Regions from separate parts of the Homo sapiens genome. Here regions 2 and 3 are each linked to region 1. The links come from fine-mapping of genetic effects on gene expression. A gene starts in region 1. Each other region holds a variant in brackets. All regions are shown on one strand. Distances are from middle to middle.

Region 1 (11,116 bases):
CATCTGGACTCTCTGGGGGTTCCTCTCCTGGGTGGCCACCTTAAAGCTCCCCGCCTGCCAGGTGTCAGCGACAGGGACAGTGAGGCTCTCCTCCTCTCCCCCAGTTACACCCCAGCCACCCCGCACTTGGATCCCCAGGGAGTGGCGGGAGCCACCTGGCACCGTGCTCATACCACTGGCCCAGATCCACACTCCCTGTGTGTGTCACCCAGTCTTGCAGCCGGGCCTCCCTGAGACTGTTTCCTCTTCTGTAAAGAGTGATGCAAACCACAGCTACCTCACAGGGCCTCTGAGGGCTCAGTTTCCTGTAGCTGTTGCCGTTGTTCTCACCGTCATCCCTCTGAGGAAGAACCAGGCACGAGCACCCTCAAATTGCTTTCTTTTCTTGAACTTCATTTCTACCCTGTGAGGCCTGCACTACAGGCTCAGCATCCCTTCATTTTCCAGATGAGGAAACAGAGGCCCAGAGCGGGCAGTGGCTCCCCAGGGCCCCCAAAGAGAGGACGCCTCCTTCTGCTCCTGGAGGCTCCGTCTCGGCTGCCTTCAGCTCACATCCCAGCACCACCACCCATCAGGGTCGTGTTCTCTGGAGTCTTTGAGTGTCTAGGTCTCCAGCCACATACAGTCGTGATGGGAAAGGGACAGGGCATTTTAGGAGACCTGGTTAAGTGGCACCTGCCTATCCCAGCCCCACTGGAATCTCTGCCACGCAAACTGGGTTTGAGCCATGCCAAAGGCTTCGCCTCGCCAATGATCCCCCAGGGGAGTTCCGTGCACGGAACTCTCTCTTTCTCCACTGAGGAAGTAGCCTCCTGATGCGCCATCTCTGACTGCAATGGCAGGGTTTTCCAGAGTCCTGGGTGGGGTGACATGTTGCCTTCTCATTTGCATGGACGATTCTGAGATCTGGTCAGGGAGGATCCCCTAGCAATGTATGAATCCCCCAGATACTTGTCATGAGCATGCGTCGCTGCTAACCGGTGAGAATCCTCTGACATGACCGTTTTTGGGTGTCTGCAAAGGGCAGAGTGGGGAGTCCCAGCAAACAGCTACGTCTGTCCCCAGTATGCCCATTGGTACCCAAAGCTGGGCAGTTACTGGACTCCCTGCCACATGAGCTTCCTCTGTTGTTGTTCCCCCTCTCCCCCAGTGCAGGCCAAGGCCCCCTGCCCATGGAGGTGTGCTGCAGACAGCAGCAGCAGCAGCAGCAGCAGCAGCAGCAGCAGCAGAGGCCTGGCTTCCTGAGGAATTGCTGGCCGGTTTGAGGAAGGAAGGAAGTCCCACCTACCATGATCACCCTCCAGCCTGGAGGAAGCTCCATGCCAGCAGCATGGACCAGCATGGGAGCCAGAGCCCTGCTAATGCTGCAGCTCATCACCCCTGCTCAGCAGCCCAGCAGCCCAGCAGCCATTGCCACATCCCATTTCCAGGGCCTCCTGCCCCCATGCCCCCACGTGCCCATGGACCGACACACCACTCTTCCTGTTGGCCCAAGGTAGGCATGGAGGGAATTTTTCAAGTCCACTTTTAGTAGGTAAGTCAAAACCAAACAAAATAACCACTCGACACCTGGTCCAATGCCCTTCCAAACTCACTCTTTTCTCTGACCCTTAAACACTTGTCCTGCATCTCCCAGACTCCACTGTACCTTGATCAGTAGGTCCCTCTTCACTGCAGTGTCTTTTTTGCAGAGTTCTTTTAGCTCTTTCATGCTTTTGCTATGGGCAGAGGAAAGAAAGAAGGGTAAATTTGGGAATCAGGGGAGATTTGTGAGTTCCAGTCCCTTTTGTTTGAAAACCCAGTGAATCCCAGCTTACTGGGTGAGAGTTTTCAGTGGAGTCCTCTGATCACAGGGGCTCCAGAGGACCAGGGTGGGACCTCTCATGCTCCTCCCCTGGGCCCCATCTCCACTTCACATGAGCCACTGCGTGTTTACAGTTAGCTTTCAGCTGGACACAGAGTTCCACTGCTGGGTACAAACACCTGAAAGCCTCCAGTTGGCTCCAGTCTGTTCCTGATGGTTAAAAAACCTTAGTCCTGAGTTGGAAATCCTTGCCTAGGAGTCCAGGGCAGCTTAGTGACCACAGCCACCGGCCCATCCCTGCCTCCAGTGTCCCTGGACTCCAAGAACCTTTCAGAGTCATTGAGGGCACATGGGGGGAGACCTGTGAGTCCCTAGGTCAACCCTGATGCTGCCATGGAGAGAGCCCTCCTCACCTGGACACTCCTGCCCACGTCTTGTGTAGCTGACCTATTGGGTTGCTGCACAGAGCAGAGACGATGACGTGCACCGAGGAGAAGTTGTTGAGGCTTAGGCACTCCTGGAGAGGGAAGAATGAGCTGTGCGGTTCAGAGTTGGAGCTTGGCCCACTACAGCCTCAGCCCCCTCTGCTGAGATCTCCCCTCCTGGATGAAGCAGAGGCCTGGGGAGCCTCAGGAGGGCAGACCTGGGGCCGAGTGGATGTCACTCATCTAGGAGGATTTTAGTTCAACCCAAGGAAGACCCCAGGTCGGAAGTGAGCAGCCACCACTGGGCCGTGGGAGTCAAGGTGAGTGAAGCTCTGGCAAGAAGAGCCTAGGGGATGTGCAGGGTCCAGGCCAGAGATACAGATGCCGATCCTGAAAGCCGATGGAGGAGAAGAGGAAGTTCCCCATTTTTAAAGAGGGAATCCCCAGGCCCAACCATAGCTTACCCTGGCCACCTTGATCCAGTGCTCCACCACCCTGGCCCTGTCCCGGGCCCTCATGCTGTGGTCCCCGAGGCAGGAGGTGGTGATGCAGTTGGTGAGCCTGTTGAAGTGTGCGATGGTGGCACGAACTGTGGGTGCCATGTGCTCATTCCCCTTCAGATGTCCTTGGCCCCAGATGCAGCCCAAGCATTCGTGGAGCACCACCTTCTTGAACAGCTCCTTTGGGGGAGGAGGAGAGTGTCACGGACACAGCACACTGCAGCTCAGAGTCACCCACAGTCCCAGGCAGGGACTGAGCTCACAGTCATCCACGGTCTCTGGCAGGAACCAAGCTGGAGCTCAGAAAGCTTTAAAATGGGCTCCAGACTTGTGGGAGTCCCTGGGTTTGGTTTTCTGCCCCCGAGGGACCTGAATGCATCATGGCCTAGAACCCAACAAGGGTGGGAAGAGAGAGTGACATTTTCTCCCAGGCCATCCACACTCTAAGAACTAGAAGGTGGCTCAGGCCTGCCCATCCTGAGGCCTCGTCTTCCTCCCATCCCAATCAGCCCTCTACTACTCCTCTCCGTACCGGTGCACTTTCCTTGTGGCAGCTGCAACTATGGGCTCTGTTTGGGTGTCTACCATAGAATCCAGTATGCATCAGGTACCTAATAAGTGCTGAGGGTAGTGAGGCTCCTGAGCAGCTGGGTGAGTGACCCATGGCCCTGCCTGCCCCACAGTGAGCACCTGCCCTGCCCTGCTTTCTGTCCATCTCCTGTCACTCAGTCTGCACAGTCACTCTGTGCAGCTGGCGCTGGTGATGTCCCATCTCTGCCGTCCACATGCAGACAGGGAAGGCTTGTGGGTGAGGAAACTCATCCAGATCCCACGGTTGGTAAGAAGTGGGGCTGAAATTGGACCGAGGGCATTGGCTGCTCCTCAGGGAGAGGCTGGTCTGAGACAGCTGGTGCCAGAGACACAGCCTGCAAAGCTCAGCTGCTCACCGCATCCATGAGGGTCAGCTGCTCTGCCAGCAGCCTGGGAGGGAAGGTCGTCATGTCAGGCAGCTCCTCACTGGGTTGGTTCTTTACAGACCCACGACAGGGACAGGAGGACTCTGGGGCTGACTGTGGCTCCAGCACTGTCCCTGGAGGGGGCCCTTCCCCTGGTGCTGGTGCTGGCCCTGGTGCTGAATGTAGATATCCTGGTGGACCCAGGGCTGCAGGTGACTCTGGCTCCAGAGCAGGCCCCAGGTCCGCCAGCAGTGGTGGTGCTGGCTCCAGGGCCGGCATTGTTAATGCGTGTTGCCCAGGACGTGGAGCAGGATCTGGAAAAGGAGAAAAGGTCACCACACCAGTCATTTTTCACTGGGTTTTCCAAGCACAGAAATGACCGGGTGGAATTTAAGGGAATTGTAGCCCCAAAACACCACCCCCGGAAAGTCTTGCAGACTGCAAGCCCCCTCACCATCTGGCTTGGCCTCGTTGGGCTCCGGAAGCACCAACTGGCCTAGGACAATTTCCTGATGGTCCTCCAAGCCCAGTCCAGGCCAGGAGAGGTTCCTGAAGGCCAGCTTTATCCGGAAAGATGACCGTTGCGGGGGCTGATAGTAAACTGAAGTGTTTTCGGGGGGCCAGTTGAACAAAATGGAGGTGATGGTGCTGGTGATGGAGTAGACAGCTGAGTCAGAGGCCTGGCCTTCTCCCACACAACCCTCCAGGGCACCCCTGCGTGGTTCTGGGTCCCTGGCCTGTTGCTGCCAGTGTGGAGGACAGCCCCACCCTACCGTAAGCCATCAGTGCTGTCCTGGAAGGGGCAGACCTGGCCATACAGCAGGGCTGTACAGACCCTCGTGCGCCCTGGCGTCCCACAGACATTCTCTTCCCAAAGGCCCTGGAGCACAGCACTGTACACCTGGGCACTCAAGACTGCAGCTGCAGGCAGATTTGTGAGCAGCTTCCTCATCAAAGCTCCAGATCTGGGTCCCCTGGTCCTGGGGTTAGGAGGGAAGGGGCAGATGTCGGGGGGAGGAGGACAGGGAGAGCTGGGAAGCCACGGTGCTGAGGGGGATGGGTCTCTCAGTGGCCAGCTGTGACCCCAGCCTCCCCTCTGCTTTGCAGGGGACCTAAGTCTCCATTTACAGAACTCACTATTTGCCTCTTGTGGGGGAAGTCCCCAGATGTCAGCCTTCTCGTGGGAATTATAAGAAGTATGAGCCCCAGAGCTCCTTTAGTCTCTCCCCAGCCAGAGTCCACATATTTTCCCCCATGTTTTGTGGGTGAAAAGGCCCTTCAGAACCCTAAATCCACCCAGTTTATATTTGTTGCTGGGCTGCGTCATTCTAGTCAGAATCTGGGAGGATGCCACCATACGTAGAGGAGGCCATGAGGGTCTCACCTGTAACATTCTGTAGATATGACTTGTTTATTCTGTCTACTGTGAGTGCCTGACTCTGAGTAGAATCAAGGCCGGGGGATTGTCATCTGCTTTGTTTATGAAATTATGCCAAGCCCCAAGAAGAGCGATGCACAAATGAGGTGTTTTGAATGTATGTGTTGAATGAGTGAACCCCAACCTTTGGAGAACCCCAGTGAGCCTCTCCAGATGTCTGAGTGGGCCTGTGGCTCCTTTTTCAGCACCAAGGGACCCCTCTTCTGTCTGTGTCAAGGAGAAAGACCAGCCAGAAGGAATCTCAGACATCCTTTACCAGTGCCATCGCAGACTTGGTTTCTATGTGTTTTTCCAAACAGTGAGTGATACAGGCCATTGAGGCAGAATGCTGAGAGCTGCTTCAAGTGAGGGGGAAGAGAAAAGTAACAAACATGAATCACAGCACCCCCAGCAGATTTTCCAGAGTTTTAGGCTCTAGGGACCCCTTTGTTTGCTGTGTCTTAGATCATTGAGTCCCTACAAGAACCCTGTGAGGTTCGTCTTCTCACTACTCCCTGTTCCAGAGGAGCCAACCGAGGCTCCGAGAGGTGCATCTTCAAGACAGAGCCAGTAGGGGACAGAGGCACCTCTGTGTCTTGGAGGGGGATGGACACTCACCTTCTAACCAGTAGTTCCAAAAAGTGTGGCACAGTGATAAAGTCCCAGGAGGGGCCCAGGCAGGTGGCATAGGAGGAGATGGGTTTAGTTAGAAAGGCTGGAACCAGGGACTCCCAACAGCTTCTCCCCAGTGCCGGGCTGGAAAGTTAGCATCCTGCAGATCTCATTTTCATACTAGGGGGACAAGGAGGGACATGGGAGTCAGTGGTAACACCATGGACCACCAGAGGATCGGGATCTGGAACTCACACCAAGAAGCACCAACCCTTCAGGGACTTGTGCATATGGAGAACCTGGGTGCCCATGGTGAAAAGCGTTCTAGGCTTTCAAAGTAACATTGCATGTGAGGATGGAGAATGATAAAACGATTCCTGCCTTCAAGGCATCGTCCCGGTGTTTGTCAGCTGTGGGGCAACAGCACCCTCTGTGTCAGCAACCTGCATGAAGAGCATCATCCCTGCAAGTCCTCAAGGCCTGGGGAGGCCTCATCCCCTCCTCATTTCAGCAACAGCACACAGGACAATACGCTCTAGAAGAACTCTTTGACTTAAAGGTATATGATTGTTTTTGTTCCTTTAACATGAACGTGAGTCTGGAGAAACAGCTACGGCCATCCCAGCCCTGGCCAAGGGGAAAATGCCGGAAGACTCCAGGGTGGGAGGAAGCGCGTCCCAAGGCCCAGGATCTGCGAGGCGACTTGGGGAAAACGCAGGCAGGTATTGAACCCGTGAAAGGTTACGCAAATGTATGTTTGAAAGTGGAAATGAAACAAGGATTTTCTCTGCCACACAGACAGCAGGTTGGCGAAAAGTTAAAAGCGTGTTAGTATTCAGGGGAGGCTGCGTTCAGAGAAGCAGCTACCTTCAGAGGCTGCTGGTGACCGTGTGACCAGCTGGAGCCCTTTTGGAAAGTCAACTAGCTAGAGCTGTTGAAAGTTGATATCTGCATATCCTTTCACCCAGATATCCCTTTCCTGGGTGTCTGTCTGCTGCAGGGGATTTGTTTATTTTATGGGTTGAATTGTGTCCCCTTCCCCAAATGTAACTGTTTCTATTCTCAACCCCAGAGACTCAGAATGTGACTGTGTCTGGACACAGAGTACTCCAAGAGGTAATTCAGGTGAAGTGAGTTCATTAGGGTGGCCCCTAATTTAACATGCCTGGGGTTCTTACAAGGAGAGGGGGTCAGCGCACAGAGAAGTTCAAGAGAAGACCCTGTGCTGACTGAGATAGAAGTCCGCCATCTCCAAGGCAAGGAGAGAGGCCCAGAGAAACCACCCCAGGCTGACAGTTTGACGTTGGACTTCCAGTCTCCAGAATTGTGAGGAACCAGATTTCTGTGGTTAAGCCCTTCAGTCAGGGTGCCGTGTTATGGCAGCCCTGGCAAACTGCTCCAGCCTATTAGGACACGCATAGGATTATGCTCCTTGTAGAAAGGCTGCCTCGAAAGGGAATTTTATCATGACAGGCTCCACCAGCACTGAGAGGCTGACCCGCTGTGGAAAATGGCCTCCCTTAAGGAATGTTACAATGACATGCGAGGGTACAACTCCTGCCTGATGGGGCTGCAGGGATGAGTTCTGTGAGATGACACTTTAAAGACTAATGCATAGAGTCGCTTCACCTTCTTTTGTTGTAATCAATGCACCCCCCCCACCCCCACCCCTTGTTTGTGCAAAAGTGTTGGATTTTAAGTCCTGGAGGAGGTCTGGCAGGGCAGCGGAGCTGCCTGCCTGTTGCCGGAGATCCACTTAGGGTGGGGAGTTAAAATGATAACAGTGTGAGTATTTTGCTGCAATGTTACCATTGTACTCAATTCTTAAAGCAACATGCCGAGATACTCCTGGCATAGCCTAAAGTGAAAACAGAAGGATTTTCTCTGGTCTTCCTCTGATAGGTGAAAGGGACTTTGCCTGTAACCAAGTTGCCACTGGGGACTAATGGCAGCCAGATTCCTTTGGGAGAGGACAGTGGGTCACTCAAGTGGGAACGCCCTAGGATGGAGCTTAGGGAGTCCCCATATTCGTGTCTGAGTCCTGGGCCCACCTTGGTTTTCACAAGTCCTGTCTGTGGAGACCCTTCTGTGCCCAATCTCACCGCAGACCGGCACTGGACGTGGTTGGTGGTGTGGTGCACGTGCCCTTTGAAGAATATGGAGAAATTGAATCCATCCAACAGCTCTTGTTTGGTCTGTTGTGTGGAGCTCTGCAAAGAGAGTGCCCGAGAGCCGGGCCAAGAGGTGTCAGTGGCCTGTCTGGCTGACCCCACAGTGGGACACCCCCATTAGAACTCATCCCTGGCACCCCCTTCCCCAACAGGATTTGGCACATAGGAGCATCTGCATAGACCTCCAGCCAGAGAAGCCTGAGGTCTCCGGCAGATGACAGCTTGAGGACTTGGGATTCAGATCTGAGCAGACAAACTGTGTCCTTGACACTCACCTTCCCATCCTGCCAGGCACTGCCTGGGCTGTGAACCTGACATACCTACCAGGCTCCAAACACCTGACAACCTACCTGCTCCTATCCAGGGAGGGCCCCTCATCTCCTGTTTCCCCCAAACAAGTGGGGAGGGGCCTGAGGCTGCCCTGATGGGCACAGCTGAGGCCTAGCCTGGATGGGCCTGCCCTGGGCCCTGTGTTACCTGTGGGTGCCTTCTGGCAAAGGGCCAGAGGCGTCGAGGGTGAGGGTTGAACCAATGTCTATATTCTCGGGAAAGACTCTCATTTTGGCCTCTTGTGCGACGAGGAGGTCGGCAGCATGTCGGGATACAGCAGGAGAACATGTTGTTCTCTCGAGCATCGCCTACGAAGTGAGCTGGAAATGGGGCTGTCTCTAGAATGTGGGTGCCTAGTTACCAGAATTGTAAGTTCTGTTGGGGGTCTGTCGGCAAGGAAGTGAGGTCACATCTTGTAGGTTCCATCCTGTAAGCTCCTCCTTTCCATAAGTCCTACTCAAAGGCCCCTCTGGGCTTCTGACCGCTCACCCTCCCCCGTCAACTCCTTACGTAGTCACCATTATGAAAAAGTGTGCCCCTTCAGCACCTTGGGAAGACCTGGATATAACCAGGGTCCCAGGTTTGAGGAGACAGTGCTGGGTCAAACAGCCTTTATTTTAGCAGTTGTGAGACCCTAGAGAACTCCTTTGGTGTTTTGGGGTCTCCCCAGCATGCACAATGGGGGTTATGCTAGCATCTCTTTCCTAGGGAACTCATGAGGTTATGTTTGAGATAAATATTTAAAAACTCATGGTGTGGTGTTCCCTGTGGATATTGCACACACTTAGAAATGGAACAAATACAAGAAGGGGTGAGAGGTAACGTCTAATGCAACTCCAGTGGGCCTGGGGTCCACAGTGTGATCTCGGGAAAAGACACTTTTGCTCTGGGCCTCATCTTTCATGCTGCACCAGTAGAGGTTGAGATTAAATGAAATTCAGACATCCTCCTCCTATGACATTGCACCTTCCAGTGCCTTCCCATTTTATTTAGACCCAGACCCTGTGCCTCATCTCAGCCTAGGGTGGGCAGCGTCCACAGAGACAGCACTGAGGGGTTAGTGACTCCCTTCTGAATGATGGAATATGACACAGATGATGGAATAGCACTTCTGGGCTAGTTCAGGCTGTTACAGCAAAGAAAGAGCTGTAACGGCCTGGGGAGCTCATCAAAAACAGAACTGTATTTCTCCCTGTTCTGGAGGCTGGAAGTTGGATATCAGAGTAGCAGCGTGGTCGGGCTTAGTGGTGACACTGCCGCCCCATTCATTGAGCTTTTATAGGTGCTGTCCTTTCCTTGGAGGACGCCTCAACTTTAGGAGCATGGGTAGACCTCCATTCAAAGCCCAGCTCCCCCTTGTAGCTTGGTGATCGTGAGGAAGTCATAGAACATCCCTGTGCCTGTTTTCTCCTCTGAGAAATGGCGTTAGTGAGAATTGTTTCCCTTTTTAATCACAGAAAATAAAGCATGCGAAGAAGTTAACTTGGTGCCATTGGGCAGAGGGTGAGAGCCCAGCAAACCGGAGAGATCAGCTGCCCACATCAGTGGCGAGGAGTGCGGAGAGTGGGTGAGGCTGGGGCAGGAAGCAGGCCAGCCTGCCAGAGCCCAGGAACAGGTGAAAGGCAAGAGTGAGCTCCTCACCCTGAATTCTCAGGGTTCACAGGCATGCAGGGGCTGTGGGGAGTACAATCATCAGGGCTGCTCTCGTTCCCCTGGTTCCCTCCATATCTGACGTGGTCCCAGGGCCCCTCTCCCTGTGTTTCCTCTCTGCCCTACTTTCTTTCTGGCTGCCCTCCCAGGACTCATTTTTGGCCCTGGTAAGGTGGAGTCTTGAGGTAACTATAGGCCTATTAATAACTCCTCTGATGTTCAACCTGCCATTTGTTGAGACCTCTGAGCTTAGTCAGAAATCTGCTCCTGCTGGGACCTGAGAGAGGGCTGGAGGGAGCTGACAGTGCAATGGCAGTTTTCCCTGGGGCAGCCACTCCAGGGTCTATTGGCAGGTATCTGCCGAACTGGAGCTTTCTTTTGGGTGTCTGGTGTTCTGAGGTGTGATTTTCCCTCTGAAGATAGGCTGAGCCCCAGGTGGGTGCCTTAGCCTCAGAAATGGGTCCCCCTGAGCTGGGAGCTGTGCTCTACCCTCAGTGTCCTAGGACACCTCACACCTGGCCCTGCCCATTCTGGCTTCCGAAGCCCACAGAGAGGGTCTGTAGAAATTGCTAGATACAAAAGGACTACAAATAAGTCATAGGAAGTGTATTTACATAACGCAGTGGTTTTCAGCCATTACTATATGTTTACTTCAGCAAAGGCAAAATTTAAGAATGTTAATACCCTGTGTCACCCTGCAGAGATTTGGATTTATTTGATGGGGCAGGAGACAGGCATCTTTGGTTTTGTTTTGTTTTGTTTGTTTCTTTTTTGAAAGCGGGACTTTGCAGTGTTGCCCAGGCCATAGTGCAGTGGCATGATCATGGGCACTGCACCCTTGATCTCCCAGGCTCAAGGAATCCTCCCTTCTCTGCCTCTCAAGTAGCTGGGACTATGGGCATGCACCACCATGCCATGCTAATTTTTGTGTTTTTTGTAGAGGTGGGGTCTCACTGTTCCACCCAGGCTGGTCTTAAAAGTCCTAGCCTCAAGCTGTCCTCCTGCCTCAGCCTCCCACAATGCTGAGTTGACAGATGTGAGCCACCATGTCTGGCCTGTTCCTTTGAAGAGCTCCCTTAGTGTTTCTAATGGGCATCCAAGCAAAGAAGATTTTGCTGGCAGAAGGCTCGTGGAACCCTACTGAGGCCGCATCTTCTTCACAGCCAGCAGATCATTCCCTGAAGTATCTGCTTAGCAGTGCACAGGCTATTTATATCCTGGGCTTTGGGTAGCTGTTGGGTTTGGGGACTG
Region 2 (8,222 bases), 59 kb before region 1:
AGGCGTATTCAGGTAGAGGGGTGACCTGGCTTCAGACAGCTCTGCCCTTGACCTGGGGCAAATCACTTCCCTGTGTGGGCCTTGGTTTTCTCATTCGTGAATGACCAGATCACTAGAGCCCTGGACTCTGACTTTGGGTCTCCTTCTTAGTTTTTCACAGGGGAAGCTATTGTGGGTTGGTCCCTACCCCACAGGGCCTGAGGCAATCTAACCTCCCTGAGAGGGTCCCTGCAGCCAGTTGCCTGAGGCTGAGTTGATGTGTGGGACAGCCCAGGAGGTTCCTGGGGGTGGTTAGTCTGTATTCAGGGTTTGGAAGAGCTGAAGTGAAGTGGGCGGGGAAGTGGGGGAGAGGGGTGCAGTTCTGCAGAGAAACGTGGGTGGGTAGCAGAGGGACCTAGAGGCTGCTAGTCCAACCTTCTGAGCTCTGGGCCTTTAACTGAACACAGATCCTTGAGGATATGGCACTAATGGAGATTTGGGGGCTAACTCCAAACCCCTCACTCACAAAGGGAGATGGAGGTCCAGATAGGGCACCCTAAGTCACACAGAACCAGGCCTCCTGCACCCCGTTCATTGCTAATCCCATAGCACTGGGCTATGAGCCCTTTGGGACTGGGAGTCTCCATGGAGTCCAACCAAGCCTTCACAGGGCAGGGGTGGGAGGGAAGGGGCTCAGGCTGAGTGGGTTTGTGTCTCGCAGTTTCCCAGACAGTCCTGGCCCAGCTGGATGCACTGCTGGTCTTCCCAGGCCAAGTGGCTCAACTCTCCTGCACGCTCAGCCCCCAGCACGTCACCATCAGGGACTACGGTGTGTCCTGGTACCAGCAGCGGGCAGGCAGTGCCCCTCGATATCTCCTCTACTACCGCTCGGAGGAGGATCACCACCGGCCTGCTGACATCCCCGATCGATTCTCGGCAGCCAAGGATGAGGCCCACAATGCCTGTGTCCTCACCATTAGTCCCGTGCAGCCTGAAGACGACGCGGATTACTACTGCTCTGTTGGCTACGGCTTTAGTCCCTAGGGGTGGGGTGTGAGATGGGTGCCTCCCCTCTGCCTCCCATTTCTGCCCCTGACCTTGGGTCCCTTTTAAACTTTCTCTGAGCCTTGCTTCCCCTCTGTAAAATGGGTTAATAATATTCAACATGTCAACAACAGCTATTGTGAGGGTCATAAGATCCTGGCTGAGAAAAATGACTGTGGTGGGTCTGGGAGTCGAAGACCCACTCCTGGGGTGGGGAGCAGTGTGCGGGGGAATGGGGATTCTGGGGACTGTTGTCAAAGAGGAAGCACCTGAGACTATTGGGGCATGGCCCAGACTCCCCCACCATGGCCCCCTGGGGGCTCAAACTGGTAGCCTGACCTTCCTGTGACCTGAGGAGCCGGAGGGAGAAAAAGGAACCAGCCCTTGCCGCCCCCAACTCTGCATGGCTGGTTATGGTCCAAGGGTTATGGCTCTAGGGTGGCTGGTCCCCATGGAGCTCAGGCTGTTGGCTTGGGGAGGGGCAGCCACTGCCTACCCCTTGGAGTCTGTGCCCAAGGCCCGACAGAGCATTAATGGGGCAGGAAGGCAGGTGTGTGTGGGTAGCATTGGAGGCACTCGAGCGCCAAGGCTGAGGGTGCTGAAGGCAGGTGGGCGGCTGGGGCAGAATCCTTTTTCCCAGGGACAGTGTGTTCTCCTGATGTCCTGTGATTGGGCCAAGGTCTGCGGAGGGAAGCTCTCCCACAAGCTGGGCAGCTGCACCTGAGGGGGGGGTGTCATGGGCAGAACACTGGGTGGAGGGGCCAGTCTTGCCATCAGCAGCAAGGAGGGGGCGGAGATTCCTTTTCTTTTTTTTTTTTTTGTTTTTTGAGATGGAGTCTCGCTCTGTCGCCCAGGCTGGAGTGCAATGGCACTATCTTGGCTCACTGCAACCTCCGCCTCTCAGGGTCAAACGATTCTCCTGTCTCAGTAGCTGGGATTACAGGCGCTTGTCACCACTCCCGGATAATTTTTAGTAGAAACAGGGTTTCACCATGTTGGTCTGGCTGAGTCTCGAACTCCTGACCTCGTGATCCACCCGCCTCCGCCTCCCAAAATGCTGGGATTAAAGGCGTGAGCCACCGCGCCCGGCCAAGGGGGCGGCCATTTCAAGAACACATTCCTCTTCCCTCCCGGTGCGCCTGAGAGGAGGCGCTTCATGTCGAAGTCAGCCCTGGGATGCAGAGAGTTGGGGGGCTCAGGGTCCTGGGATGGTCTCGCAGACACTCCTAGTTCTTCGCCTGCCCCTTCTCATCTCTATTTCTGTGGGGGCGGGGAGGGCAGACAGGAACAGGGCTACCCTTGAAGCAGGTTGGGGGAGGGGGATCCTAACAGGACCCCGGTGCCTGTGGACAGTGACAGGGTCGACAGCTCTGGGGCTCCACTCTCCTTTCCCTGAAGACCCCAGCTGCCTCAGTGGCTTCTGGCTTGCACCCAGCACCAGCGCAGATGCCCCGAGTGCCGGCGGCTCGAGGTCGGCCCGCCCGTCCGGACCTGTTTCCTCCTCTGCTCTCCTGCCAACGCCTGCCCATCTCTGTTTCCCCCACGTCCAGCACGCGCTTCGGGGACGGCCAGAGCCACCATGCCGACTGGAGAGACTCTCCTGATTCGGGTCCTTGTGTCCCGGGGCCCGGGCGGCTTCGCGCGGCGACAACCGGCGCGGTGGGACCACCGAGACGCCGGGACCTCCGCGCGGCCTAGAGTGGTCCCGGAAGTGCCCGCGGGCCGGGGGCGGGGCTCTGGGTGCTCGGGCGGCCGCGGGCTCCGCGTCAGCAGCTGCTGTGGAGCCAGGCAGCGTCGGCCGCGTCGGCCGCGGGTTGGAGCAGCTCAGGTGCGGCCCCGCCCCGCCCGCCTGCGGCCCCGCCCCGGCCCAGGTGAGCTGCCCCGCCCCGGCCCAGGTGAGTGGCCCCGCGTCCGCCGGTGTGACCTGAGTCCGCCTGACCACCTGTCCCTCCGGTGGCCCTGGGTGTGCGTGTCCCCAATCGCGGGGAAGCCTGTAGGGGCGCCACGTCGCCGCCTGGGCAGCGTGTGCGGGTCCGTGGCAACTCTTGGGCCCCCAGCCAGGAAACCTTGACTGCACTAAGAGTTTGCAGGGTGCCCAGGCCCTAGGGACTCTCTGGAGGATGGGATGACAGATGCAGGAGGACCCGGAGAAGGCCCCGACAGAGGTGGGAAGCATGGAGTTCCAGATCTTTGCATTTTCGGTCCAAAAACACTTATCATGTTGTGGGAGACAGATAAAGGGTTGCCAACTTTTTTCTGAGTGGAGACTTCAGGGTGTAGGGGCTATATAGTGGGAATGGAAAACCTCTACGGAGGGAAGTTTGAGAACACCAGGACTTAATGGGTGGGCGGAGGAAGAGTTGCAATCTAAAGATATCAAGAAAGAGAACTTGGAAGCCATGAAAATTGGGAAGAAAGCGAGGGTGGGGATGGGGTTGGGGGGTAGCTCAAAGCTTTCATGCACCTAGGTAGGCAATGTGGGCGGGTGAAGGGATATTGTCACATCTTCGTTTTTCAAGAGAAAGCCAGAAACCTACTGAGTTTTAAATATTGGTAACTAAGGAAAATGAACAGGAAAAGCCAAACTCTTCGAGAGCCAAACATAACATAGCAGGATCTTCAGGCTGCCAATTTGCAACCTCTGAAATGAAGGGTTTTGAGAAGGAGGTATTGGAGAGCAGTGCCAGATGGGGTGGGAAGGTGAAGACCGAGAAGAGAGGGATTGGCAATAAGGAGGTCATAGAATGCCAGAGCTGAGGTCCCAGCTGAAATCGGAAACTCGAAATTTGTCGTGGTGCCATACATAGTTGTATGATTTTTCTTGGCAACATTTAACAACTTAGGAGGAACTGGCCGAGAAGACTGGGACTTAGCGGCTAGTTGCAGCCGGACGAGGAGGTGAGGAGCATGGTGCTAGAGCGTGAGAGTTGAAGTGATGCGCATAGTATGGAGAGTCTAAGCTGGATGGAGAAGGGGTGGAGCTAGAAAAGGAGAACTACAGTAAAAATGGCTTGGATTTCATGAGGTCGAAAAGCACAAATTGAGTGAGAGAGCTGGAAGAGTTGGAGATTATGGGTTGCTGAAGAGGAGGGGGAGGGTGAGAGGAGTTGAAGTGATCAAAGAATTTTTGAAAATACTTTAGGGCTGGGCGAGGGGGCTCACGCCTATAATACCAGCACTTTCGGAGGCCAAAATGGGTGGATCGCATGAGCTCAGAAATTCGAGACCAGTCTGCACAACATGGCGAAAACCCATCTCTACAAAAAATACAAAAATTAGCCAGGTGTGGCACGTGCCTG[T/C]AGAGCCTGTATTCCCAGCTACTTTTTTTTTTTTTTTTTTTTTTTTTTTGAGACGGAGTCTCGTCCTGTCGCCCAGCCTGGAGTGCAGTGGCGCGATCTCGGCTCACTGCAAGCTCCGCCTCCTGGGTTCACGCCATTCTCCTGCCTCAGCCTCCCAAGTAGCTGGGACTACAGGCACCTGCCACCACGGCCGGCTTTTTTTTTTTTTTTTTTTTTTTTTTTTTTTTTGAGATGGAGTCTCGCTCTGTTACCCAGGCTAGAGTGCAGTGGCGCGATCTCGGCTCACTGCAACCTCCGCCCCCCAGGTTCAAGCGATTCTCCTGCCTCAGCCTCCCGGAGTAGCTGGGATTACAGACGCGCTGTAATTTTTGTAATTTTAGTAGAGACGGGGTTTCACCATCTTGGCCAGGCTGGTCTTGAACTCCTGACCTCATGATCCACCCACCTCGGCCTCCCAAAGTGCTGGGATTAGAGGCGTGAGCCACCGCGTCCGGCCTTTTTTGTATTTTTAATAGAGACAGGGTTTCACCGTGTTAGCCAGGATGGTGTCCTAGCTACTTAAGAGGCTGAGATAGGAGAATCACTTGAACCCAGGAGCCAGAGGTTCCAGTGAGCTGTAATCACACTACTGCACTCCATTCTGGAAAAAGAAAATACTTTAGTTCAGTGCTCTTTTTTTTTTATATCCAGTCGGTCTATTGGCTGAAAAATCATTTAAAAAAATCATTTCTGGGCTGGGCGTGGTGGCTCACACCTGTAATCCCAGCACTTTGGGATGCCAAGGTGGGCGGATCACCTGAGGTCAGGAGTTCGAGACCAGCCTGGCCAACATAGTGAAACCCCATCTCTACTAAAAATACAAAAATTATCCGGGCCTGGTGGCGGGTGCCTGTAATCCCAGCTATTCAGGAGGGTGAGGCAGGAGAATTGCTTGAACCCAGGAGGCAGAGGTTGCAGTGAGCCGAGATTGGGCCATTGCACTCCTGGCTGGGCAACAAGAGTGAGACTCCACCTCAAAAAAAAAAAAAAATCATTTCTGCTGGGCATGGTGGCTCATGCCTGTAATCCAGCACTTTGGGAGGCAGAGGTGGGAGGACTGCTTGAGCCCAGGAGTTCAAGACCAGCCTGGGCAACATAATATTATCTCATCTCTACAGAAAAATTAAAAAATTAGCTGGATGTGTTGATATGCCCCTGTAGTCCCAGCTACTTGAGAGGCTGAGGTTGGAGGATCAGTTGAGCCGGGGAGGTCAAGGCTGCAGTGAGCTGTGATTCTACTCCTGCACTCCAGCCTGGGTGACAGAGTGAGACCCTGTCTCAAAAAAAATTTTTTTTTCCAAGTAGAAATGAGTTCTGTTATGACTGTTCTGATTAATTTAGTTTTTTTTTTTTTTCTGAGGCAGTTACTCTCTAGATGCAGTATAAGGATAATTGTGCCTTTGTATAGAGTTGTGAAGATTAAATGAGGTGCCTTGAAGGACCTATTAGTGCCTAGCACAGAGTAGGTGCTCAGTGAATATGAGCTGTTGCTATCATTATTGTGTCACCTGAAGACTTTGCCTTTATCTAGCACAGAAGTTTCTGAATAGGGCTCTTTGGGGCTTCCTCAGGGGCCACATCTGGGAGGGGGAGTGCTGAGTGGGCTGTTCTAGCTTCCTTCCTTGTCCCTGCTAACGCGCCCTCCTTCAACTGGAGCAGCTCTGCTTTTGTCTGTTTTATTTTATTTTTATTTTTATTTATTTATTTATTTTTTGAGACGGAGTCTCACTCTGTTGCCCAGGCTGGTGTGCAGTGGCATGATCTCGCAAGCTCTGCCTCCTGAGTTCACGCCATTCTCCTGCCTCAGCCTCCCGAGTAGCTGGGACTACAGGCACCTGCCACCACGCCTGGCTAATTTTTTTGTATTTCTAGTAGAGATGGGGTTTCACCGTGTTAGCCAGGATGGTCTCGATCTCGTGACCTCGTGATCTGCCCACCTCGGCTTCCCAAAGTGCTGGGATTACAGGTGTGAGCCACCGCGCCCGGACTTGTCTGTTTTATTTATTTATGTCTCCTAGACCAGTGATCCCCAACCTTTTTGGCATCAGGGACCAGTTTTGCAGAAGACAATTTTTCCATGAATGGGTGGGGGACATGGGGGATGGTTTTGAGATGAAACTGTTCCACCTCAGATCATCAGGTGTTAGATTCTCATAAAGAGTGCACAACCAAATCCCTCGTATGCACAGTTTACGATAGGGTTCCAGTTCCTATGAGAATCTAATGCCACTGCTCATCTGACAGGAGGCAGAGTTCAGGCTGTAATGCTCGCTCACCTTCCGCTCACCTCCTGCTATGCGGCCTGGTTCCTAACAGGCCACAGACTGGTGCCTGTCCCCCACTCTGGGGGTTGGGGACCCCTGTCCTAGACAGTTGACTTATTTGACTAAAGTGTTCTTTGACCAAAAAAAGTGACAGTTCTAGAAAAACAAATGGCTTTTCCTCCATTTGATAATTTATTCAACAACTGTGTACATTGGGATTGTGCTTTTGTGCTGGGGGCTGGGGATTCTGAAATGAAGGAGCACAGTATTTGCCCTTAGGGAATTTTCAAGCTAACGATGGGGGCCTGAGATGGTCAAGAACCTGAGGGTGCAGAGAAAAAGGGACATTTGGACGAGTCCTGAAGGATGAGCAAGTGGCAGTCTGAGAATGGTCCTTACCTGTTAGGACCAGACAACAGCAGTGCAAATTAGTCATTGAGCTGGAAAATTAGAAGTGTTGGGGGGACCAGCCTGGGCAATACAGTGTGACCTCATCTCTACAAAAAGAAAGAATTAAAAAAATTAGCAGAGTGTGGTGGCATACACTTGCAGTCCCAGGAGGCTGAGGTGGGAGGATCACTTGAGCCTGGGAGGCAGAGGTTGCAGTGAGCCAAGATCACACCACTATACTCCAGCCTGGGCAACGGGCAAGAGCCTATCTCAAATAAAAAAGAAGAGGTGTATGGGGCAGACAGACAGGAGATGGATTGGAAGGGCCAGGTGTGAAGGAGTTGGGCTGTCACAAGATCCTAAGAAGGGAACCACCAGGCCAGGCATGGTGGCTCACGCCTGTAATCCCAGCACTTTGGGAGGCCAAGGCAGGCAGATCACTTGAGATCAGAAGTTTGAGACCAGCCTGGCCAACATGGTGAATCCCGGTCTCTACTAAAAATACAAAAATTAGCCAAGAATGGTGGTGGGCGCTTGTAATCCCAGCTACTCGGGAGGCCAAGGCAGGAGAATCACTTGAAGTTGGAAGGCAGAGGTTGCAGTGATCCAAGATCGTGCCACTGCACTCCAGCCTGGGTGAAAGAGTGAAACTCCATCTCAAAAAAAAAAAAAAAAAAAAAAAGGGAACCACCATAATCAGGCTTATGTTTTGGATATTTGACTCCATTGTTAGTGTAGGGCATGCACCAGAGGGAGAGGAGGAAGCCGGAGGTCAGCAGCTAGTTTGGAGGCCAGCCCTGAAAAGATCCCAGGAGGTAGCTCTGAAGCCTGAGCTGCAGAGTGGCAGTGAGGACTGAGAGACAGAGACGCTGCCCATGCAGCCTCAGGAAGTAGATAAGAGGGGACCGGTCGGGTGAGAATAAGAGCGGTTATGCTGACTCCCAGGTTGGGGCACCTGGCTGGAGGGAGTGCGACTGGAGGGTAGAGGGAAGAGCTCTCTTTCTCTTTCCCAGCAAAACCTGCCCCCAATGTCACCCAGTAGCTGGAGTCTTGCTCCTTTTCTGCAATGGCCCCACTTCCTGGTTGTTGTTGCTGTTGTTGTTGTTGTTGTTTGAGATAGAGTCTCGCTTTGTTGCCCACGTTGGAGTGCAGTGGGCTGATCTCCGCTCACTGCAATCTCTGCCTCCCAGGTTCAAGCGAGTCTCCT
Region 3 (11,116 bases), 980 kb before region 1:
AATGTAGATTACTTCAACCATTGTGGAAGACAGTATGGTGATTCCTCAAGGATCTAGAACCGGAAATACCCCAGCAATCCCATTAGTGGGTATATACTCAAAGGAATACAAATCGTTCTACTGTAAAGACACATGCATATGGTATGTTTATTTTATATACATATATATTTTTATTATACTTTAAGTTCTAGGGTACACGTGCACAACATGCAGGTTTGTTACATATGTATACGCACACGGTATGTTTATTGCAGCACTGTTTACAATAGCAAAGACATGGAACCAACCCAAATGCCTGTCAATGATAGACTGGATGAAGAAAATGTGGTACATATACACCATGGAATACTATGCAGCCATACAAAGGAATGAGATCATGTCCTCTGGAGGGACATGGATGAAGCTGGAAGCCATCATCCTCAGCAAACACAGGAACAGAAAACGAAACACTGCATGTTCTTACTCATAAGTGGAGTTGAAAAATGAGAATACAAGGACACAGAGAAAGGAACAACACACACCAGGGCCTGTTGTGGGGTGGGGAACAAGGGGAGAGAACAGTCTCCCCTCGTTAGTTAGAGGATGGGTCAATAGGTGCAGCAAACCACCATGGCACATGTATACCTATGTAACAAACCTGCATGTTCTGCACATGTATCCTGTTTTGTTTTTTTTTTTAAATAAAGAACAAAAAACCAGGAAGGCCACAAAGGACCATGTATTATATGATTCCATTTATACAAATTATCTAGCAGAAACAAATCCATAGAGATAAAAAGAATATGAGTGATTGCCAGGGGTTGGGGTAGGGAGTATAGAGGCTGGCTACTAATGGATACAGGATTTCTTTTTGGAGTGATGCAAAGTTCTAACATTAGATCACGGTGATAGTTGCACAATCCTATGAATATATTGAAAACCACTAAGTTTTACACTTTAAATAAGTGCATTGTATGACATATAAATTACATATCAATAAAGCTAAAATTCAAAAAAAAAAACAACCTAATGAACAACATCGAACAAACATTTCTGGAAAATATATCCCAACACTGTGAAAGACCTGATAAGAAGAAAGACTACGGTTTTGCAGAGGTCCAAGCGGAGAAAAGAAACACAGTCAAAGCTTTAAAGATGCTGAGATGCAGACTGCTCAAGGAGGCTGGCAGCTTGAGATCACTTAGACCGCTGGTTCTTGGCCATATCAGACCCAAATACCCCCTGCGCACCTTTTTTTTGAAACAGGATCTTACTCTGTTACCCATGCTGAAGTCCAGTGGTGCAATCATGGCTCACTGTAGCCTTGACCTTCCAAGCTCATTGGATCCTCCCAATGAGCCTCCCGAGTAGCTGGGATTACAGGTGTGAACCATCATGCCTCATCCCCTTTCTTTAAAAACAATTGAAAATATACCTTTACTATCCTGAAATGAAATTCAGAAATAACTTATTTATTAGATATATCTTCCAAAAATATCTACTTAACACAGCAACTATGATATAAAAACCATTTTTAATAAATAAATATAAATTTCAATATGTAAATTTTCAGGCAGAATGGTCAGAAATCCACATCTCTAAGTTGAATCACTGAATTTCACAGCTACAAATACTCTTCATTTGAGTATGTCATTTTGGCAACTCAGGTACCACACTACCTATCATGAATGCTATCAATAATGTGATTGATTCTTCATTTACCTAAAAAGATGAATCACTCTTAGTGTGATGGTTAATTTATGTGTCTTCTGACTGCATCATGGGGTGCCCAGACTTTTGGTCAAATATTTCTCTGGGTGTCTCTGTGAGGGTGTTTCTGGATGAAATTAACGTTTTATTCAGTGGACTGTCTAAAGCAGATTAACTTCCCTAATGTGGGTGGGCCTCATCTCATCAACTGTAAGACCTGAATAGAACAAAAAGGCTAAGTAAGAGGGAGCCCCTCCCACCTGACTGCTGAGCTGGGACATCTCTGCTTGCCGTCCGACTCAAACTGAAACAAACATTGGTTTTCCTTGGGTCTAAAGCCTGCTGGATTTCAGACAGAAACTTACATCGGTGGCTCTCCTGGTTTTCAGGCCTTCAGAGCCAGATCAGAATGACACCATCAGCTCTCCTGGATCTCTAGCTGGCCAACTGCAGATCTTGGGACTTCTCAGCCTCCATAATTGCATGAGCCAATTCCTTTAATAAGGATCTTGTTATAAATAGAATGCTTCCCCTTTATCCGAGGGGGATATGTTTCAAGAACCCCTACGGATGCCTAAAAATGCAGATATTGCCCAACTCCATATATACTATGTTTTTGCCTATACATAAAGATGCTCCTCAACTTATGATGAAATAAAAATATCGTAAGTTGAAAATATCAAGAGTCAAAAATTCATTTAATGCACTTTACCTATTGAACGTCATAGCTTAACCTAGCCTATCTTAAACATGATCAGACCACTTACATTAACCTATAGGTGGACAAAAATCATCTAACATGAAGCCTATTTTATAATAAAGTATTGAACACCTCATGTAATTTATTGAATATTATACATGACATTAAAAATGTGACAGTTTCACGCCATCATAAAGTTGAAAAATCTTAGGTCGAACCACAGCAAGTTGGGGACCATGTATACATACCACCTATGATAAAGTTAAGTTGATAAATTAGGCATAGTAGGAGATTAACAACAATAACTAATAATAAAGTAAGCAATAATACAATATGCTAGCATCACTACTCCTGCACTGTGGGTCCATTATTAAGTGAAATAAAGGTTACAAGCACTGTGATACCAGACAGTTAATCTGATAACCAAGACTAAGGGACTAATGGGCAGGCAGCACACACAGCATGGATACATCGGACAAAGTGAGGACTCATTTCCAGGTGTGACAATGAGACCGCACAAGATTTCATCATGTCATTCAGAACAGTCCACAATTTAAAACTTACCAACTGTTTGTTTCAGGAATTTTTCCATTCAATATTTTCAGACCTTGGTTGACCATGAGGTACTCAAAGCATGGAAAGCAAAACCATAGATAAAGGGCAACTGGTGAATACTTATATTTTCTCCAGAGAAACAGAACCAATAGGATGCGTGTGATACAATCATATATATTGGTTAAATATAGTTAAATATACTATATATATAAACATATCTCACTCTCTCTTTCCCACTGGATACATATATATATATATATATATATATATATATATATATATATATATATATGTGAGAGAACCAAGACTAGTAATACACTTAGTAAAACTAAGAACAAAATGAGATAATTTCCCTTCAAAGTCTAGACTAATTCCATTTCCTGAAATTTCCATTTCTACTAAAATTACATTTTAAAAAATCCTTTATGTAAAATGGAATTCAGTTATAGGTTCAGCCTTAAACAGTTTTTTTCTATCTACATAAGTTATTCAGCAAGATATTCTAGGCCAGGCGCAGTGGCTCATGCTTGTAATCCCAGCACTTTGGGAGGCCGAGGTGGATGGATCACCTGAGGTCAGGAGTTCGAGAACAGCCTGGTCAACATGGTGAAACTCCGCCTCTACTAAAAATACAAAAATTAGCCGAGCGTGGTGGCACATCTCTTAATTCCAGCTACTTGGGAGGCTGAGGCAGGACAATCGCTTGAACCCGGGTTGCAGTGAGCTGGGATCACACCACTACACTCTGTCCTGGGTGACAGAGTAAGATTTGGTCTCAGAAAAAAAAAAAAAAGATATTCTAAAGCTGTGCAGATCATAGGAAAAGTTCTATTTTACAGAACTGTCACCACACTAAGCCTTGAATTCCATGGGCCCTACCTATTAAATAAATGCCTATAGCACCCACCAACCATTGAGACAATCACAAATGCTTCCACAAATTCCTAAAATGACCCTCAGGCTCATAAAAAAACAAATTAGAATTCACCAGAAGATCCTGGGTCCCTACCTGGTCGAGATGGAGAAATCACTGGCTGACACTCCTCCCTAGAGCCCCTCTAGAGCCCTCCAGGTAGAGATTACAGAGCAGAGGAGCGAAGGAGCACAGTTCACAGCACTTCCAGTGTCTTGGAGAAGGGGAAGTGGTGGAAATTACCACTCTCTCTTCTCCAACTTTGCTCAAGGGTGTCACATCAGCACACATCACTGAGACCTCTAGTCCAGGAAAGTCAAGGTTTGGGGGAATAAAAAGTAGCTTTCCTCATAAAAACATTGTGGATCCTGCCTCTGTGTTCTAAGAATAATCTGAAACAATAGTCCATGAAGTATGCCTCATGTATTTGTCAAACAGTGTTTCTTAAAAACACCAAAATAGATGCACTACTCCCAAAATAACAGGGAAAGGCACTGAAGGCCTTGAGCCTCCCCCAGGCAGCAAGCACCATGTCCTGTGTGGTACCTTGTACAGTTCACTGGATCCTCACATGGTCCCAGGTGGGTATGTCTAGATGAAGGAACTAAGGATCAGAGATTGCAAGTAATTCTCTCCAGGTCAATTCATTCTTGAGGAACAACGGTCTGAATTCAAACCTCACTTCACTTCTGCCACTCCATATGGCCTCCAATATACACATAACACAAGTTAGGAATGCCAGATTTTGATCTCAATGAATATTTCACAACATATTAACAAACCGTGACAACACTAAAACTACACAGCTCAACCTGCCCCTTCTGGATCTGTCTACTTGTCCAATGTTGTCATCAGTGCTGGTATACTTTTTGTTTTTGAGATGAAGTCTTGCTCTTCTCCCCCAGTCTGGAGTGCGATGGCACGATCTCAGCTCACTGCAACCTCTGCCTCCCGGGTTCAAGTGATTCTCCTCCCTCAGCCTCCCGAGTAGGTGGGATTACGGGCGCCTGCCACCACGCCTGGCTAATTTTTGTATTTTTACTACAGACAGGTTTCACCATGTTGGCCAGGCTAGTCTCGAACTCCTGACCTCAGATGATCCGCCCTCGGCCTCCCAAAGTGCTGAGATTACAAGTGTGAGCTACCGCGCCGGGACCGTGCTGGTATTCTTAATCAACATTTTTTATTTTGAAGGGACTAACTACCATGTTATTTAACATAAAACCTTTCTTAGAGCAGAATATTTATTGCCAGGTCTAGATCCATATGTATTAAATTAGAGCTGTAAAAGTAAAATTCTTAGTTGTAATCATACTAATTGGAAGAAGGGAATGAGGGATGGGCATGAGTTGAAAAACTATGCTCACTACCTGGGTGACGGGATCCGTACCCCAAACCTCAGCATCGTGCAACATACCCATGCAACAAACCTGTGCGTGTACCCCTTGAGTCTAAAATAAATTATTGACATGTATTAAAATTACTTTTTAAAACAATTATTGAAATTATTTTAAAAATCATACTAATTTATATATATCTACTTTTAAATTTAAAATATTTGCCATAATTTAATATTAAAATATTATTTGGGTGAAGACACAAACCACTCTCATTAGAGAAATAAACCCTTCATTTACAAGGCTGCAATCTGGGTGGCCTGAACGCTCACTAGAATGTCCCAGTGCTCCTCAGGACAGGGTTCACAGCTCTGGGAGCCCTGCCCAAAGCTAATTACACATTCACAGCCACACAGGAAGCTCCAGAGTTTCCTTTACTTCTACAAGGAGATCATATAATTAAAACCTCCTGAGGAAAACAAAGGGCTGTCTCTTACCTACCACATAAGGTAGAAATAATACTATTTAAAACTCGGCTCACAGACTCTTTACTAGAAATGAAAAATATCTTGGAAGCCATTTTACAGGAAACTCTACGTGCAACATCGACAAAAAAAATATTCTTGTAGTTACAAGAGTCTACTGTGGGAGGATCCTGACTACTAAAAAGTTATGAGACAAGTCATTGTGGGCACAACATTTA[T/C]TTATCAATAAACGTTTATTCCGTGTCCAGGCAAGCCAAGCACCAATTCTCTGGGAACCTAGTCAAGGAGGACTCAAATATATGGGCATATAAAGACTAGGACAGGCCGGCCCCAGTGGCTCATGCCTCTAATCCCAGCACTTTGGGAGGCCGAGGCAGGTGGATCACTTGAGGTCAGAAGTTTGAGACCAGCCTAGCCAACATGGTGAAACCCTGTCTCTACCAAAAATATAAAAAATTAGCTGGGTATGGTGGTGCGTGCCTGTAATCCCAGCTAATCGGGAGGCTGAGGCAGGAGAATCACTTGAGCCCGGGAGGCAGAGGTTGCAATGAGCCGATATCATGCCGCTGCACTCCAGCCTGGGCGACAAAGTGAGACTCCATCTAAAAAAAAAAAGGACTAGGACAAAAATACCTACTTTCAAGGAGTTCACAGTCTACAGGAATAAACAGGACATGTAAATGAACAAAATAGGTCCCCATCCTTTATGAACCTACTTTAAAAAACAAAAAACAGGGCAAGTATATGTACAGGATACAATGGAAGCAGAAAGATCCCCAATTCTGCCTTACTTTGGGCAACAAAGTAGGAGGTACACCTCGAAGGTATGAGAGTAAACACAGGTTCAACTGAAGAACTCTAATGACTTGGCTAGAATACAGTATGGCTAGAATACAGAAATGTCAAAATGAGGACTTGTCGGCAAGGGCCAGAAGACCAGTCAAGCCCTGGGCTTCATGTGACACAGGACGGTGAATAAAAGCCGTGCAGTCCTATAACCTGACTTGCAGTTCCCAAAGACTAACCTGCGCTGCTGTACTGAAGATACAGAATGGGAGGGTCAGGGATGAGGAAAACAGAATGGGCATCTAATTCCCTGTAATGTCTTTGCTCTCCCTTAATCTAAGCTTTATGTTCAAAATAAAAGTACCACTCTCACTCCACAACTCCCCCAGTATCTGAAGACCACCATGGCGATTCCCTAAATTGGCCCTCCTTCCAAGTCAGCACCACACATTCCCCATCCACTCCTCCAGATTTCAGTACCCTGTGTCCACTGGCATCAAAGTATGACAGGCACCTCGGAAGTGGGCACAGATACAAGACAGATCTGGTCTGGCAAGCACAGAGCTCAGCAAGACTATTATTTCCCTCGATCTAGAAACTGAGCTGCTCCTACCTTAATCTAAGAAAAAAAAATCTGCTTTTCTAGGAGCTTCCAGAGGCTCATGATAAGTTCATGGTTATCTAATATTTTCAAGTCTTTTACCACACAAACTGCTGCTAAGCTACTGTTCTCTTTTTTCCCCCTTTTATTTTTGTTTTGGAGATGGAGTCTCGCTCTGTCGCCAGGCTGGAGTACAGTGGCACGACCTCGGCTCACTGCAACCTCCGCCTCTCAGGTTCAAGCAATTCTCCTGCCTCAGCCTCCCGAGTAGCTGGGACTACAGGTGCGTACCACCACGCCCCGTTAATTTTTGCACTTGTAGTAGAGACGGGTTTAACTATGTTGGCCAGGATAGTCTCGATCTCCTGATCTTGTGATCCCACTGCCTCAGCCTCCCAAAATGCTGAGATTACAGGCATGAGCCACTGCAGCCCAGCCTCCCCTAATGTTTTATTATGAAATTTTACAAACATGCAGAAATGTTGAAAAAACTGTACAGTAAGCAACATCCCACTTCTTTCCTTTTCTTCTTAATTTTTTTTCTCTATCATAGCACACTACAGCCCGAGCTCTGCCTCAGCCTCCCAAGTTGCTGGGATTACAGGAGCACATCACCATGCCCAGCGTTTCCTCTTCATTGCTGTGTAATCTATATTCTAAAAAATCTAAACCTTTATCTGTTAAAATTTTCATTTGGTAAATCAGCTCAAGTTTCCAGCATTTAGGATACTTTTAAATTCTGACTTTGACTTGAAACCCATTAGTCTTCCTTCTAACAAGTGCTGTCTTCAATCTAAGTCACTTGGCCACCCAGTATTCTCATCTACAATAAAAAGGAAGTTGGACTCTAAGGCATCTCTACGACACCTTCTGACTCTTGTAATGTCAGATAATTCACATAATTGATGACGTTACATAGGACAGAGCAATGGTAAGGCTATGTGACACACCAAAAGAATCTCCTTCCGGGTCTCCCATACAGTGAGTAGAGAACTGAACTTAAAGGTCAAGAGACCTGAGTTCAAGCTCCAGTTCTGCCATCCAAGTTGTGTGACTCTGGACAAATCACTTAATCACTTTATGTATCTACAAATCTGTTTCTTCTCCTATAAAAAAGAACTGATAAAATCTAGTTTATAGAGTTCTTGTAAAAAATAACATGTGTAAACCAACAAGAACATAACTCCTGATATCCCACTTCCAGAAGTTACTTCATCACAGATCAAAGGTCAAAGGAAAAATGGTGTAACAGTCCAAGGTCAGGGATGGCAAGTTATTTCAGTGACTCAGAAACCCCACCCTTAGAAAAAATCCTTTCTAAAAAGCTTATAATTGGCCAGGAGCGGTGGCTCACACCTGTAATCCCAGCACTTTGGGAGGCTGAGGAGGGCGGATCACAAGGTCAGGAGTTAGAGACCAGCCTGACCAATATAGTGAAAACCCGTTTCTACTAAAAATACAAAAATTAGCTGGGTGTGGTGGCAGACACCTGTAATTCCAGCTACTGAGGAAGCTGAGGCAGGAGAATCGCTTGAATCCAGGAGGCAGAAGTTGCAGTGAGCCAAGATTACACCACTGCACTCCAGCCTGGGCGACAGAGCAAGACTATGTCCAAAAAAAAAAAAACAACTTAAAATTTTATATTTGAAAGTTTGACAATGGTGCAAAGGAAGCCTTTCTAAACTAAATAAGTTAAAATAGATTGGAATTCAAATTCAGTTTAGTAAAAATGAAGTCTTTTTTTCAACAAGCATTTCACTGGTTAGGTTAAAAAGAAATTAATAAAAATGCTAAGAAGTTATTTTTCCTTGGGAGGCTGAGGCAGGCGGATCACGAGGTCAGGAGATCGAGACCATCTTGGCTAACACGGTGAAATCCTGTCTCTACTAAAAATACAAAAAATTAGCCGGGCGTGGTGGCAGGTGCCTGTAGTCCCAGCTACTCGAGAGGCTGAGGCAGGAGAATGCCATGAACCTGGGAGGCGGGGCTTGCAGTGAGCCGAGATCACGCCACTGCGCAATAGCCTGGATGACAGAGCAAGACTCCGTCTCAAAAAAAAAAAAAAGATAAATAAAAGAAGGTCTTTTTCCTTGTGTCTAGTGAGTATAAAGCAGTGGTACTTAATGAGGAGTAGGGGATAATTTTGTACCCTAGGGGATATTTGGCACTGTCTGTAGACATTTTTGGTTGTCACAACTGGGTGGGAGGCAAGGTGCTACAGACAGTGAGTGTGTAAGAGGCCAGGAATCCTAGTAAACTCCCTACAACACACTGGACAGCCCCCCACGACAAAGAATTATACAGCCTAAAATATCAATACAGTCAAGGCTGGGAAACCTTGGTATAAGGGGACTGGTTAAACTTGGAAGGAAGGGTTTGTCTTTCTGTAAATCGTTCCGTAAATAAGGTCTCATGTGTACAGACAATCTGCTGAGAAAGCCACAGTTCTGGCAGCTGGCAGAGCTGAAAGAGAAGGGAAAATCTATGCACAGGGCCCTCGGATTTCCACCCATATTTCCCAAGAAAGGATACAGTTCCAGAAAGGGCTCTCTCTGATCTCCCGGAATGAAATCTGAGAATGAACCACAGGGCCTCATTGCTTACCTGTACCTCCGTTTTGTAGTCTCCAGCTGGCCTGGCACAGACTGACAACCCCAAATGGATGGTCAAAATCCACTGTTCTCCAGTCCCTCTCAAACCTCACCGGCAAGAGGGAAAGAAACTAAACCCCGAGGGCCCATTATATTCCAGCGGGGTCCTAGGGATTCCACACTCATTCAGTTCCTTTTCATCATAAGAAGTGGGTATTATAATATCCGATCCACTGTAAAAGGTGATCCCAAAGCAAATGGTAGAGCAAGAGTCTGAATAGGGGCACCTCCAACAGCCACACCCACCCCACCACAGCTCCCAGGGGTTTCTTCTAATCCCAAGGGTGGCCTATACCCTGGGACTATAGGGGGCCTTGGTGTGCTAAGTCTTCAGAGACATTTTTAAACGGTCAAGACGCCTCTTGGCGACTGGAGGAAGTTCCTGACCTCGCGGCATTCCCTCCTTCCCATCCCCACTACCACACCAATCCTATGCCAGCCTGTCTGTGTCAGGGAAGAAGTCCAGCTGGACAACTCTGGCAGCCTCCTGTCGCCCTCCCCTGCCAGCAATCCTTCTGTGCCACAGCTGTGTGTCCACACTCTAAAGCACACATCCCACCAGGCCACTCTTCTGTAAAATAATGCCTCACTGTCCCAGGCCAAATACCCCAGCGCCGATACCTGCTTCTTCAAATCCAGGCTCCAACCCATCCCTCCGTCTCATTTCCATTTTACGTGCACACATAGTCACACACTCTCACATACCCACACTTTGGCTCCTACTGTTCCTACCCCTGAAAACCCCTTACCACTTTCTTCCCTGAGAAATAACTGCTCGTGTGTCACTTCAGGACTCAGCTCCACTGCCGTGTCCTTAGTGATACCTTCCCTTGTCTCTAGCTGGTTGGTCCCCCATCCCTCTTGCCTTCCTGGCCACAGCACTCACCTAAGTGTCTTTTATCCAGACAACATTTAGGGTATACTTAGACCAAAAGAGTCATCGCTATTTATCTGAAATTCACATTTACTTATGTTTAATTTTCATTTTTTTGGAGATGGAGTCTTGCTCTGTAGCCCAGGCTGGAGTGCAATAGCGTGATCTCAATTCATTGCAACCTCCACCTGCAGGGTTCAAGTGATTCTTCTGCCTCAGCCTGTTACTTGAAAAACAGACAAAAATCAAAGGTATGATGTGAACAGCATGAATTACTGCTGAAAAATACTGGCAACTATGTGTCTCTCCCTTTCTCTTCTCATCAACTCCCTCTACTCTGCATGAGTCACCCCACTGGCCTGGAATGGAAGGGGTGACAACACTACAGATTCTACAGCTATGAGAGGATAATAAGGGACTATTAGGAACCACTTTATGCCAGTAAATTCAAGAACTTAGATAAAATAAATTAATTTCTTGAAGGACAAACTACCGAAGCTCATCAAAAAGTGGTAATTTGAATAG

Evidence for each region.
Region 2: its variant is fine-mapped to the expression of RGL4 in whole blood (TOPMed, PIP 0.98).
Region 3: its variant is fine-mapped to the expression of RGL4 in whole blood (INTERVAL, PIP above 0.99).

What each region holds. Positions count from the first base shown.
Region 1 is chr22:23,685,552-23,696,667 of GRCh38, reverse strand. It overlaps RGL4 (ral guanine nucleotide dissociation stimulator like 4), which reads right to left and starts at 5,655. Exons shown (of 11, transcript NM_153615.2): 1 at 4,459-5,655; 2 at 4,140-4,333; 3 at 3,677-3,999; 4 at 2,694-2,909; 5 at 2,218-2,321; 6 at 1,649-1,718; 7 at 1-54. The coding sequence starts at 4,637. It also overlaps the pseudogene GUSBP11. RefSeq lists enhancers at 1-13, 748-1,248.
Region 2 is chr22:23,745,677-23,753,898 of GRCh38, reverse strand. ZNF70 (zinc finger protein 70) reads left to right here and starts at 2,787. Exons shown (of 2, transcript NM_021916.4): 1 at 2,787-3,188. It overlaps VPREB3 (V-set pre-B cell surrogate light chain 3), which reads left to right. Exons shown (of 2, transcript NM_013378.3): 2 at 701-1,156. The coding sequence ends at 1,023. RefSeq lists enhancers at 328-1,001, 1,512-1,571, 2,412-2,471, 2,354-3,029, 7,569-8,069 and 1 more and a silencer at 2,622-3,071. The variant T/C (reference allele first, on the strand shown) is at 4,323.
Region 3 is chr22:24,667,186-24,678,301 of GRCh38, reverse strand. No RefSeq gene overlaps it. Among named protein-coding and RNA genes, the nearest start is that of GGT1, 70 kb to the right of the region's middle. The variant T/C (reference allele first, on the strand shown) is at 5,898.